2 separate regions of the Homo sapiens genome follow, and region 2 is linked to region 1. The links come from fine-mapping of genetic effects on gene expression. Tissue or cell type: testis. Region 1 holds a variant in brackets; the other region holds the start of a gene. All regions are shown on one strand. Distances are between the middles of the regions.

What was found. PIP is the estimated chance that this variant, and not a neighbour inherited with it, causes the effect.
Region 2: MMP9 starts here. The variant in region 1 is fine-mapped to the expression of MMP9 in testis (GTEx, PIP 0.97).

What each region holds. Positions count from the first base shown.
Region 1 is chr20:46,034,721-46,043,173 of GRCh38, forward strand. It overlaps SLC12A5 (solute carrier family 12 member 5), which reads left to right. Exons shown (of 26, transcript NM_020708.5): 2 at 228-322; 3 at 684-815; 4 at 1,057-1,203; 5 at 2,021-2,075; 6 at 2,535-2,665; 7 at 5,653-5,894; 8 at 6,609-6,820; 9 at 8,433-8,453. Among named protein-coding and RNA genes, the nearest start is that of SLC12A5, 9.7 kb to the left of the region's middle. RefSeq lists silencers at 6,190-6,484, 6,267-6,467. The variant C/T (reference allele first, on the strand shown) is at 4,852.
Region 2 is chr20:46,007,229-46,011,447 of GRCh38, forward strand. It overlaps MMP9 (matrix metallopeptidase 9), which reads left to right and starts at 1,680. Exons shown (of 13, transcript NM_004994.3): 1 at 1,680-1,836; 2 at 2,638-2,870; 3 at 3,255-3,403; 4 at 3,694-3,822; 5 at 3,915-4,088. The coding sequence starts at 1,699.

The DNA of each region.
Region 1 (8,453 bases):
AGCAAGGAAGCACTCACACATCTGTTAATACGCAGTGCATACCAGCTAGTGCATTAGGCTCTGTATACATGCTGTCAACTGCAACCCTGCAAGGAAGGTGGTATTAGCCCCATTTTCCCAATGCGCGAACTGAGATTCAGAGGGCTACTGTGGCTACACCACTGTATGCCCAGGTGGTTGGACAACAACTGATTGGTTCCAGATCCCTGACCCCTCTCCCTTCTCAGGTGATGGCAACCCCAAGGAAAGCAGTCCCTTCATCAACAGCACCGACACAGAGAAGGGAAAGGAGTATGATGGCAAGAACATGGCCTTGTTTGAGGTGGGCTGCTAGGGCTGTTGGGCCCCCACCTACAATTCATTATCCTGATTCATCAGCTGCTCTCTCCCTCCCTCCCTAGGGAGCAATACCCTCGTCTCCACCCCTCCCTTGAGTCTACCTTCTTCCTTGAGCCTCCCCATCCCTCCTTCTCCCTCCTGGGATTTACTCCCTCTGCTCCCTGCCCTCTCCTCATCCTACCATTCTTACCCCTGTTCTCCTCACCTGTTCCTCCTCCTTTCCCATCTCATCCCAACCTGAATAGTTTCGTGCTCCTTGTCCCCATCTCTTCCTCTGCCCTTCGCCACCCAGCTCACTCCACTTGCTCCCCCAGCCTCCTAGCACTGACACCCTCCCTCCATAGGAGGAGATGGACACCAGCCCTATGGTGTCCTCCTTGCTCAGTGGCCTGGCCAACTACACCAACCTGCCCCAGGGAAGTAGGGAGCATGAAGAGGCAGAAAACAATGAGGGTGGAAAAAAGAAGCCGGTGCAGGTGAGGACCTCGGGGGATGAGAAATGGAAGAAAAGGGACGGATGGGGGGTGGGGGAGGATGGGGGAGGAAAATGGATTTGAATGGAGGGAGGGAAAGGGGATACAAATCAGAAAGAAGAGGGATGAAGGGTTGAGAATAGAGAGAAGAGGAAGGTGGGGGCAGAGAAACATGGAGGAGGAGCACACCTGGGGTGTTCGTAATGATGAGGACTGCAGAGACTGATGCTGGCCTCCCTGGCAGGCCCCACGCATGGGCACCTTCATGGGCGTGTACCTGCCGTGCCTGCAGAACATCTTTGGCGTCATCCTCTTCCTGCGGCTCACCTGGGTGGTGGGCATTGCAGGCATCATGGAGTCCTTCTGCATGGTGTTCATCTGCTGCTCCTGTGTGAGTGACACCCCTCCCCTCACCACCCCCTGACAGCTGGGGCTTGGCAGAGGCCTGGGGGTGGGAGGTGGGAGGATGGAAGCATGAGACCTGAGCTTTTTATAGGAACCACTGCTTATGATCTTTGAGAGTAAATTAGGCCTGACTGGTCCTTCCTGCATCTCACAGGCTTGTCCTTGATGGCTGTTAACCAGGTTTCACCTGGATCTCTCTGTGTGTAATTACACAAGTGATGCAGCTCATTGATGGAAATGATAAGGGTAGGGAAGAAAATAAAATTCACCTATAATCTTACAATAGTTAACATTTTGGCAGGTCCAGACTCACAAAAATGAGATTACATGTCACAAACAGCATTGTAACCAAATTCTTCCCATTCTCTCTAAAAAAATCAAATATTCGCCAAACACCTACTTCTTGATATATTTACATGTCCTCGTACATAACCTTGAGACAGCTCTGCATGTGAGGTACGCAGTGTCGGAGCTGTTACTCCTATTCTATAGATGGAGAAACTGAGGCTTGGAGAAGTGAAGTGAGTTGTCTCAGGTCAGGCAGCTGGTCTGAGACCAGGCTGGGATTTCCAGAGCTCTCTGATGCTGTGGCTTGCTTGGGCTCCTTCCGTTCGCATGGTGAATAAGGTTTTCTTGAGAAGAAGGACTTGGCAGGAGTAGAAGTTGGAACAGGTCCAGGGAGCAGCTCAGCAGAAGAGAACCTGTGGGTTTGGCTGGTGTTTATGGGGTATAAGGCTTGGCCCCCACCCAGGCCACTGCGGCCCCTACCCCAGCCACCGCTCTGATGATCTCTTTCCTCACAGACGATGCTCACGGCCATCTCCATGAGTGCAATTGCAACGAATGGTGTTGTGCCTGGTAGGTGACTGGGGCTTTGTGGGGAGGGAGGATGGCTGGGTGGAAGGAGGGATAGTGCCCTGGGCTTTGGGGGACATCAAGGCCCAAGAGAGATAATATTCTAGACTAGGGGGCTGGGCTGTATCTGTTTTCAGCCCTATTGGGGGCAGAGGAGGAGGCAGCTCTCGGTGTTGAATAGGGCAGCCCTCCCCCAACTCATCCTGAGACCCTCCTCTCCACCATCCAATTTTCTGAGCCATGACCTCCTTAAAGGGGTAATTAGCAACATGGTAATTAGTGCTGCAAAATCCATGCAGAGTGGTTGCTTGGGTCTCTCACCAGTCCCCTTTCTAGGGCTGCAGCCCATAAGCCTGTGAGGCCTGGAGCAACCCCCTTCTGCCTCTGTCACTGAACACCCCTCACCCCTTACGGCAGCCCAGTGCCCCCGACCCTCTCGCTGATACCAGATTCTCCCTGCAGCTGGTGGCTCCTACTACATGATTTCCAGGTCTCTGGGCCCAGAGTTTGGGGGTGCCGTGGGCCTCTGCTTCTACCTGGGCACTACCTTTGCAGGAGCCATGTACATCCTGGGCACCATCGAAATCCTGCTGGTAAGAGAGGCTGAGGAGGAGGTGTGGAACCCCAGGTTGTCAGTCAGTTAATCAGTGCTCCCTGGACACCTCCTATAGGCCAGGCCATTCAGTGAGGCCAAAAATGTGGTTCAGTAAGGCCAAAGTCAGATGTGGTTCTGTTTCTAAAGAGTTCACAGTCTAGTTGGGGAGACAAGATACAATAATTATGTAACATACACAGCTGTCGTTTATCAGGCCCCCACTGAGCTCTCAGCATCCTTCCAAGTGCTTTCCAGCCATTCTCTTGTATCCTTACGAGGTTTAAGTATTATGATGCCCATTTTACAAATGAGAAGCTCAGAGAGGTGAGATAACTTCCTCAAGGTCACTCAGCTCTCAGATAGGCGGCAGAGGTGGGTTGATGAGTTAAAATATGGTAGAAATAAAAACAGTAATGTTATGCAGCAGCTACCATTGTGTGATTGCCTCCCAAGGGGCATGGACTGTGCTAGGTACTCTATGATGTTAATGGTAGATGGCTGGTGGCTATTGGATTGCAAAAGAGAAGAACCAGGGGAGGGATCCGTATAAAGACATCTGTTGGGAATAGTGACTGATGGAGAGAAACCAGGTTGCTGGGCAGTGCTTGAAGTCAGGACTGGTGACTTAGGTCTCCATCCTTCATCCCCTTCCTGTAGGGCATGGGTGCTGAAGAGGTGTCCCTGGTGGATAGGAAGTAGAGCTGACATGTCCCAAGCCCCTACTCTGTGCAGGCCCCAAGGCTTGAAGTATATCATTTTATTTTATCGTCATGACTCTCTCATGAGTTAAAGGTGGCCATTTTATTTTATTTTATTTTTTATTTCTTTTGAGACAGAGTCTCACTCTGTTGCCCAGGCTGGAGGGCAGTGGTGCAGTCACTGACAGCCTCGACTTCCCAGGTTCAAATGATCCCCCCCACCAGTTCAGCCTCCCAAGTAGCTGGTAAGCACCACCATGCCCAGCTAATTTTTGTATTTTTTTGTAGATAGGGGTCTCACTATGTTGCTCAGGCTGGTCTCAAACTCCTGAGTTTAAAATGATCCTCCCACCTCAGCCTCCCAAAGTGTTGGGATGACAGGCGTGAGCCACTGCACCTGGCTAAAAGGTGGCCATTTTACAGATGAGGAAAGCAAGGCTCAGAGTTTAAGGAACGAATGGAAGGAATATGAACCTTGGTCTTTCTGACTTCCAGAGCCTTACACAAGTGATGCAGCTTCATTGATGAAAATGATAAGGGTAGAGAAGAAAATAAAATTCACCTATAATCTTACAATAGTTAACATATGGTAGGTCCAGACTCACAAAAAATGAGATTACATGTCACAAACAGCATTGTAACTGAATTCTTCCCATTCTCTCTAAAAAATCAAATATTCACCAAACGCCTACTTCTTGATACATTTACGTGTCCTCTATACCACACTGCCTTGGAAACCTAGAACTAGAAGGTGTCACAGCAATTAGTGTCACGGCAGGATGGAAGAGGGTAGGACAGGGAGGATGGATGGGGCATGAAAGGCCTGAGGAGGCAAATGATGAGGGAGAATAGACCTCCATGACTTCTAAAAATTAAAATATTTGAAAATTGTTGTAAATGCAATTCTGCCCATTGCAGAAAATTGGGGGAATATCCAAGTCATGAAAAAATGTAAAGAAGGAAATAAGTCACCCAAAGAAAATAACCATTAACATTTTGGTGTATTGCCTTCTAGTTTTTGTTTTTCTATGTGGTATTGTATTCTGTCTATGTAAAATATAACCCTATACCTAAGCAACTCATATTCTCTTTGTATATATTATTTGCAGTGAAAATAACTCTTGGAAGAATGTAAACGTTAATATTTAGCATGGGAATTTTAGAAAATACAGATGTGCATAAAGAATAGATTATCCACATTTTTTACGATTCAGGGAAAACTACTGACAACATTTTGATGTACTTATGAAAACACATACAGACGTATACTAATATACGTATATATCTTCACATACACATTTATAAAAATGAGATAATGAGACATATTCTTTTTCAAAAACCTGATTGTGTTCACCTAATGTACCATGGATAGCTTTTAAAGTCAGTCCATATAAATCTATGTCATCTGGCCGGGCACAGTGGCTCATGCCTGTAATCCCAGAACTTTGGGAGGCCGAGGCAGTTGGATCACCTGAGGTCAGGAGTT[C/T]GAGACCAGCCTGACTGATACGGTGAAACCCCGTCTCTACTAAAAATACAAAAATTAGCCAGGGGTGGTGGTGGGCACCTCTAATCCCAGCTACTCGGGAGGCTGAGGCAGGAGAATCACTTGAACCCAGGAGGTGGAGGTTGCAGTGAGCCAAGATCGTGCCACTGCACTCCAGCCTGGGCAACAAGAACAAAACTTTATTTCAAAAAAAAAACAAAAAAACCACCACCACAATAAAAAACCAACAACAACAATAAAAAACCAACTACATCATCTTTTTTAATAGCTCCATAGTCTGTGGGGATATCATGATTTATTCACCCAACCTCGAGTGATGAACATTTATTTCCACCTTTCTATTAGAAATTATTAAAATGATAAATAATTATTAAGAATTATAATTAACAAAAATAACAGAAGTAATTGCTTCCAGCATCCTTGCAATGTCATTTTTTAAAAAATGTATTTTTATTTGTTTTTGAGATGGGGTCACATTATGTTGCCTAGGCTGGTATTGAAATCCTGGCTTCAAGTGATCCTCCCACCTTGGCCTCTCAAAACACTGGGATCACAGGTGTGAGCCACCATGCCTGGCCTTATAATGTCATTTTTAAATGGCTGCATCATAGTCCTTGCAGGACAGGCCATGCCTTCTTTAGCGATTCTCCTATTACTGGATGTCTTTTCCAGTCTGGTACCACTGTGACTGTGCTGTGATGAGCATCTTTTTTCCTAAAGCGCTGCATGTAGTGCAAAGGGCTGCTGACTTAGGTATCTGTTCTTCCTGCCCCTTTCCCACAGGCTTACCTCTTCCCAGCCATGGCCATCTTCAAGGCAGAAGATGCCAGTGGGGAGGCAGCAGCCATGCTGAACAACATGCGTGTTTACGGCACCTGTGTGCTCACCTGCATGGCCACTGTGGTGTTTGTGGGTGTCAAGTATGTCAACAAGTTTGCCCTTGTCTTCCTGGGTTGTGTCATCCTCTCCATCCTGGCCATCTATGCTGGGGTCATCAAGTCTGCCTTCGACCCACCCAACTTCCCGTGAGTGCTGCTGCTCTGAGCCCAAGGAATCGTCCTCCTACCTCCCTGGCCCTGTTTCAGAGTCTCTGCCAAACTCCCCCTCCCTGCCCCTCAGAATCTCAGAGTGGTGTGGGTTGGGAGTAGCTTCCCTTGGGAGGGAAAATCTCTCTTAGTTTGGGGGCAATCTCTTCAGAGTGAGGTAACTTTTCTGGAGGAGGGAACAATTTACCTTGTAAGAGTCAACTTCTTGCTGGTAGGGTGGACTTAGGAAGAATTAAGTGGGAATGAGTTCCAAAGCAATGAATGCTGTCTGTGGTAGGGAAACCTTTCCTGGGTGGGGACAACCTCCTGGAATGGGACAATCTCCTAGTGTTGGACAACTCCTCCAGGATGGGAAAAGACACAGAAGTCTACAGGGTCCAGGGACTCAGATCCAAGTCCACTCCATCCACTGCTCAGAGGTGGAGGGCGGCCCCCGAGACCGCTGTCCACGGTGCTGAAACACAGCATTGCACTAATGCGGTGCTTCTCCACCTTGGCTGCTTATTAGAATCACTTGGGGAGCTTAAGAAAAAAAAAAAAAAGCCAATGGCCAGGCTTCATTTAAATTAAACGAGGAACTCTGGATATGGGGACCTGGCGTCCGTGTGTTTAAAAGGTCTCCCGGTGGCTGTATTGTGCAGCGAGGGCAAGGTTATGTGGCTCCCCACCTTCCTCCCTTGTTTCTCTCCCTAGGATCTGCCTCCTGGGTAACCGCACGCTGTCTCGCCATGGCTTTGATGTCTGTGCCAAGCTGGCTTGGGAAGGAAATGAGACGGTGACCACACGGCTATGGGGCCTTTTCTGCTCCTCTCGCTTCCTCAACGCCACCTGTGATGAATACTTCACCCGAAACAATGTCACAGAGATCCAGGGCATCCCTGGTGCTGCCAGTGGCCTCATCAAAGGTCTGCGGAGGGACAAGGGCTGGCATCCAGGGAACGCTGCAGGGATTGTAGGTTAAGCGGTCAGGATTAAGGGGCCCTCCTTGGGATTCAGCTAAATTCAATCAGCTTTAATTGAGCACCTACTCTGAGTTACATTCTGTCCTTGGCATCAGGGAGGAGTAAGGTGAAAAGGAGACAAGTATCTCACCGCTAGTAGGAAAAGAAGTCATCAACGTAACAGGTGGTCACTGAGCACCTACAGAGTGCCCAGCATTGTGCTGAGTGCTAGGAACACAAAATAAATAAGCCACAGTTCCTGGCCTCAAGGAGACTAATGGCAGAAATAGATGTAATAGCAAATACATTATGCCATATGTAGATGTGCATTCAATGCACAGAGAATGCCCGGGGGGGGAGAGTTCATGTGTATAAGATGGCAATAGGCTTCCTGGACTCAACTGAGGAGGGTTTTGAAGGACAAATGAAAGATCTTCAATTCTATGAGAGGAGTAAGGAAATTGCAACCAGAAGAACAGCTTGCCTAAAAGCAGGCAGAGGCAGAAGAGTTTATTGTGTCTTTCCAATCACAAGTAATTTGGTATGACTGGGGCATAAAGAGCAAAATAAGGTGGAGAAAGAAGCGATGTAGGAGAGGCTGGCATGAGCCAGATCATGGCAGGCCTTGGAAGCCATTTTGGAGAGTTGGGACCACATTCTGAAGGCAATGAGGAGCCACCAAGGGGTTTTGGGAAAGGGAGGGACGTGGTCAGATCTCCATTTTTTGAAGGTTCATTCTGGCTGCTAATGTGGATGGGTTAAAGGGGTGAGAGGAGAGAGGCAGGGGGCCCAGGAAGGGGCTGAGGCTATGAGTCCAGGAGAGAGAGATGGTGGTTTTCTGAGTGAGAGTGATGGAATGATGTCTGTGGGAATTACTGCAGTGCTTCTCAACCAGGGCTGTTTTGCCACCCAGTAAACATTTGGCTGTGTCTGCAGACGTTTTTGGTTGTCAAAACTGGAGGGGTGTACCTGGCATCTAGTAGGTAGAGGCCACGATGCTGCTAAACATCCTACAATGCTATAGGACAGTCCTCCACAGCAAAGAATTATCTGGCCGGGAGTGTCACTAGTGCCACAGTGGAGAGACCTTGGAATGGAGAGAAGGGGCATATTTAAGAAATATTAAGGAGGGGTTAAAGGACAGAAGTTGGAGGTGGTATTGAAGTTGGGGAAGGGGAGAGGGAGCAGTGTAGGGCAGGGTGTCAGAATTGATGATGGTGCCATTTACTGAAATATGGGATGCAGGAAAGGAGCTGGTTTGGGGTGGGTGGAGGGTGAGATCAATTTGGGACACATCGACTCAATCTGAGATGGGTCTTTATTTGCTCATTTACTCCACTAGATTGGACTGTTTGATGGTAGTGACTGGGTCTGATTAGTCTGTGAAAGGTCTGTACATAGCCTGGCCCAAATCAGGAGCTTAGGAAATGTCAGTGGAAATGAAATAGAGATAAGGCCGGGGAGAGTGAGATGGGGTTGATCTTGACCCTGACTTTTTGCCCCCTCCCACCTCCTGGTCCCAGAGCTCTGGTCCCCTTATGGCTGGCCTCCCCCTGAGCATTCTGTCTCCCCACAGAGAACCTCTGGAGCTCCTACC
Region 2 (4,219 bases), 30 kb before region 1:
CCAGGTGGGCAGATCACTTGAGTCAGAAGTTCGAAACCAGCCTGGTCAACGTAGTGAAACCCCATCTCTACTAAAAATACAAAAAATTTAGCCAGGCGTGGTGGCGCACGCCTATAATACCAGCTACTCGGGAGGCTGAGGCAGGAGAATTGCTTGAACCCGGGAGGCAGATGTTGCAGTGAGCCGAGATCACGCCACTGCACTCCAGCCTGGGTGACAGAGTGATACTACACCCCCCAAAAATAAAATAAAATAAATAAATACAACTTTTTGAGTTGTTAGCAGGTTTTTCCCAAATAGGGCTTTGAAGAAGGTGAATATAGACCCTGCCCGATGCCGGCTGGCTAGGAAGAAAGGAGTGAGGGAGGCTGCTGGTGTGGGAGGCTTGGGAGGGAGGCTTGGCATAAGTGTGATAATTGGGGCTGGAGATTTGGCTGCATGGAGCAGGGCTGGAGAACTGAAAGGGCTCCTATAGATTATTTTCCCCCATATCCTGCCCCAATTTGCAGTTGAAGAATCCTAAGCTGACAAAGGGGAAGGCATTTACTCCAGGTTACACTGCAGCTTAGAGCCCAATAACCTGGTTTGGTGATTCCAAGTTAGAATCATGGTCTTTTGGCAGGGTCTCGCTCTGTTGCCCAGGCTGGAGTGCAGTGACATAATCATGGCTCACTGTATCCTTGACCTTCTTTCTGGGCTCAAGCAATCCTCCCACCTCGGCCTCCCAAAGTGCTAAGATTACAGGAATGAGCCACCATACCTGGCCCTGAATCTTGGGTCTTGGCCTTAGTAATTAAAACCAATCACCACCATCCGTTGCGGACTTACAACCTACAGTGTTCTAAACATTTTATATGTTTGATCTCATTTAATCCTCACATCAATTTAGGGACAAAGAGCCCCCCACCCCCCGTTTTTTTTTTTACAGCTGAGGAAACACTTCAAAGTGGTAAGACATTTGCCCGAGGTCCTGAAGGAAGAGAGTAAAGCCATGTCTGCTGTTTTCTAGAGGCTGCTACTGTCCCCTTTACTGCCCTGAAGATTCAGCCTGCGGAAGACAGGGGGTTGCCCCAGTGGAATTCCCCAGCCTTGCCTAGCAGAGCCCATTCCTTCCGCCCCCAGATGAAGCAGGGAGAGGAAGCTGAGTCAAAGAAGGCTGTCAGGGAGGGAAAAAGAGGACAGAGCCTGGAGTGTGGGGAGGGGTTTGGGGAGGATATCTGACCTGGGAGGGGGTGTTGCAAAAGGCCAAGGATGGGCCAGGGGGATCATTAGTTTCAGAAAGAAGTCTCAGGGAGTCTTCCATCACTTTCCCTTGGCTGACCACTGGAGGCTTTCAGACCAAGGGATGGGGGATCCCTCCAGCTTCATCCCCCTCCCTCCCTTTCATACAGTTCCCACAAGCTCTGCAGTTTGCAAAACCCTACCCCTCCCCTGAGGGCCTGCGGTTTCCTGCGGGTCTGGGGTCTTGCCTGACTTGGCAGTGGAGACTGCGGGCAGTGGAGAGAGGAGGAGGTGGTGTAAGCCCTTTCTCATGCTGGTGCTGCCACACACACACACACACACACACACACACACACACACACACACACACCCTGACCCCTGAGTCAGCACTTGCCTGTCAAGGAGGGGTGGGGTCACAGGAGCGCCTCCTTAAAGCCCCCACAACAGCAGCTGCAGTCAGACACCTCTGCCCTCACCATGAGCCTCTGGCAGCCCCTGGTCCTGGTGCTCCTGGTGCTGGGCTGCTGCTTTGCTGCCCCCAGACAGCGCCAGTCCACCCTTGTGCTCTTCCCTGGAGACCTGAGAACCAATCTCACCGACAGGCAGCTGGCAGAGGTGGGCAAACACCTAGTCTAGAGTTGGGGAGGGCTGTCCGTGAGGGTGTTGAGTGTCCCAGAGAGGATGCAGGGCCTCAGAGGAGATGCTTTAGGGGTGTGTTGGTGGTGATGGGCGTATCTGAAGAACAGAGGTGTCCAGGGTTAGGCAGTGGGGGGTCTTGTGGAGGCTTTGAGCAGTGATGGCCAGAAATGGGCAATGGGGCTTTCCTAGGTGGGAAATGGGAAATGGTTTGGGGTGGGGGAGGCATTGGAGGGTTCTGGGGTAAGCATAGGCTGGGAGTGAACAGGGGCAAACCTTATGCAGCTGTGGGGTAGAAATGGGCTAGAGGCATCCAGGGGTGAGAAGGAGCTGAGGATGTCTAAGGAGGGGAGATCCCTGGGTGGTCAGAAAGCACTGGTGTCTGGAAAGCATTTAATGCTTTATTAAATGTTAGTCCCTGCTGGGCATGACGGCTCACACTTGTAATCCCAGCACTTTGGGAGGCTGAGGTGGTAGGATCGCTGAAGCTCAGGAGTTTGAGCCCAGCCTAGGCAACATAGTAAGATCCTGTCTCTACAAAAAAATTAAAGAAATAGCCAGGCACAGTGATGTGCACCTGTAGTTCCAGCTATGCAGAAGGCTGAGATGGGAGGATCGCTTGAGTCCAGGAGGTCCAGGCTGCAGTGGGCTGATACCGTCTCTCCGAAAAAGAAAAAGAAAAAAGACTCCCTCCATGAGTGTCTGGAGGGAGTCCTTTGGCCCCAGCTGGGCAGAGAAAGGGGTCAGAGATCTGGCATGTGTGTGTCCCTTCATCCACAGGAATACCTGTACCGCTATGGTTACACTCGGGTGGCAGAGATGCGTGGAGAGTCGAAATCTCTGGGGCCTGCGCTGCTGCTTCTCCAGAAGCAACTGTCCCTGCCCGAGACCGGTGAGCTGGATAGCGCCACGCTGAAGGCCATGCGAACCCCACGGTGCGGGGTCCCAGACCTGGGCAGATTCCAAACCTTTGAGGGCGACCTCAAGTGGCACCACCACAACATCACCTATTGGTGAGCCGGGGCCGTGGGGGCAGCGGGGTGGGGCGGGGAGGCCAGGTCTGGCTCTTGGGCCAGCGGTGAACATGTCCTGTCTTGGACGCGTCCCTGGGTTTCACTATTTAATGTGTGGCCCCTGGGGAGTGTCCCCACCTCTGAGCCTCTGTTTCTCCTTCAGGGAAATGGCTCTTGCAATCCAAGTCCTCCTGCCAGGGCCATTGTGAGGGTCTAAGTAGACAAAAAAAAAAAAAAAAAAAACAGTCTGGAAGCAATTTATAGATGAGAGCGTGGACGGCAGAGAGCATTGTGTATGTTGAAGTCTCTGCGATATGGGGTGTCCCTGCTGCCCCGCTCCAGCCTTTCACTTCTGACCTCCTTCCTCTGGCTCTTACGCTACAGGATCCAAAACTACTCGGAAGACTTGCCGCGGGCGGTGATTGACGACGCCTTTGCCCGCGCCTTCGCACTGTGGAGCGCGGTGACGCCGCTCACCTTCACTCGCGTGTACAGCCGGGACGCAGACATCGTCATCCAGTTTGGTGTCGCGGGTGAGAACGTGAGGAGGGAAAATCCAAGAGACCTGGGCGGGGTCAGGGAAGGGAGGACCACGGAGAGCGTGGAGGCAGCAGTGGCCCCGGCTTCCTCTTGCCTGCCCGCGCTGCCCTGGCTTATACGGCCCCTCCTGCCAGACAGTGCACAGGGCCAGGGCGCCAGGCTGGGAGAGCTTCGCGCAGGCGGGATTTCAGCCCGCACTTATTTCGGAGCCCTTGCCTTGGGCAGCGCACAATCTGCGCAGCAGTACTCGGCTAACCCTCTTCCTCTCGACCTGTTTCTTCAGAGCACGGAGACGGGTATCCCTTCGACGGGAAGGACGGGCTCCTGGCACACGCCTTTCCTCCTGGCCCCGGCATTCAGGGAGACGCCCATTTCGACGATGACGAGTTGTGGTCCCTGGGCAAGGGCGTCGGTGAGATTCTGAGTCCTCCTGGCCCCTGATTCCCTTCATTCTCTCCCACTCATCACCCGCCGCCCTAACTCCGGTCCCCCCTCCTCCTGCAGTGGTTCCAACTCGGTTTGGAAACGCAGATGGCGCGGCCTGCCACTTCCCCTTCATCTTCGAGGGCCGCTCCTACTCTGCCTGCACCACCGACGGTCGCTCCGACGGCTTGCCCTGGTGCAGTACCACGGCCAACTACGACACCGACGACCGGTTTGGCTTCTGCCCCAGCGAGAGTGAGTGAGGGGGCTCGCCGAGGGCTGGGGGCGCCCACCACCCTTGATGGTCCTGGGTTCTAATTCCAGCTCTGCCACTAGTGCTGTGTGGCCTGCAATTCACCCTCCCGCACTCTGGGCCCAATTTTCTC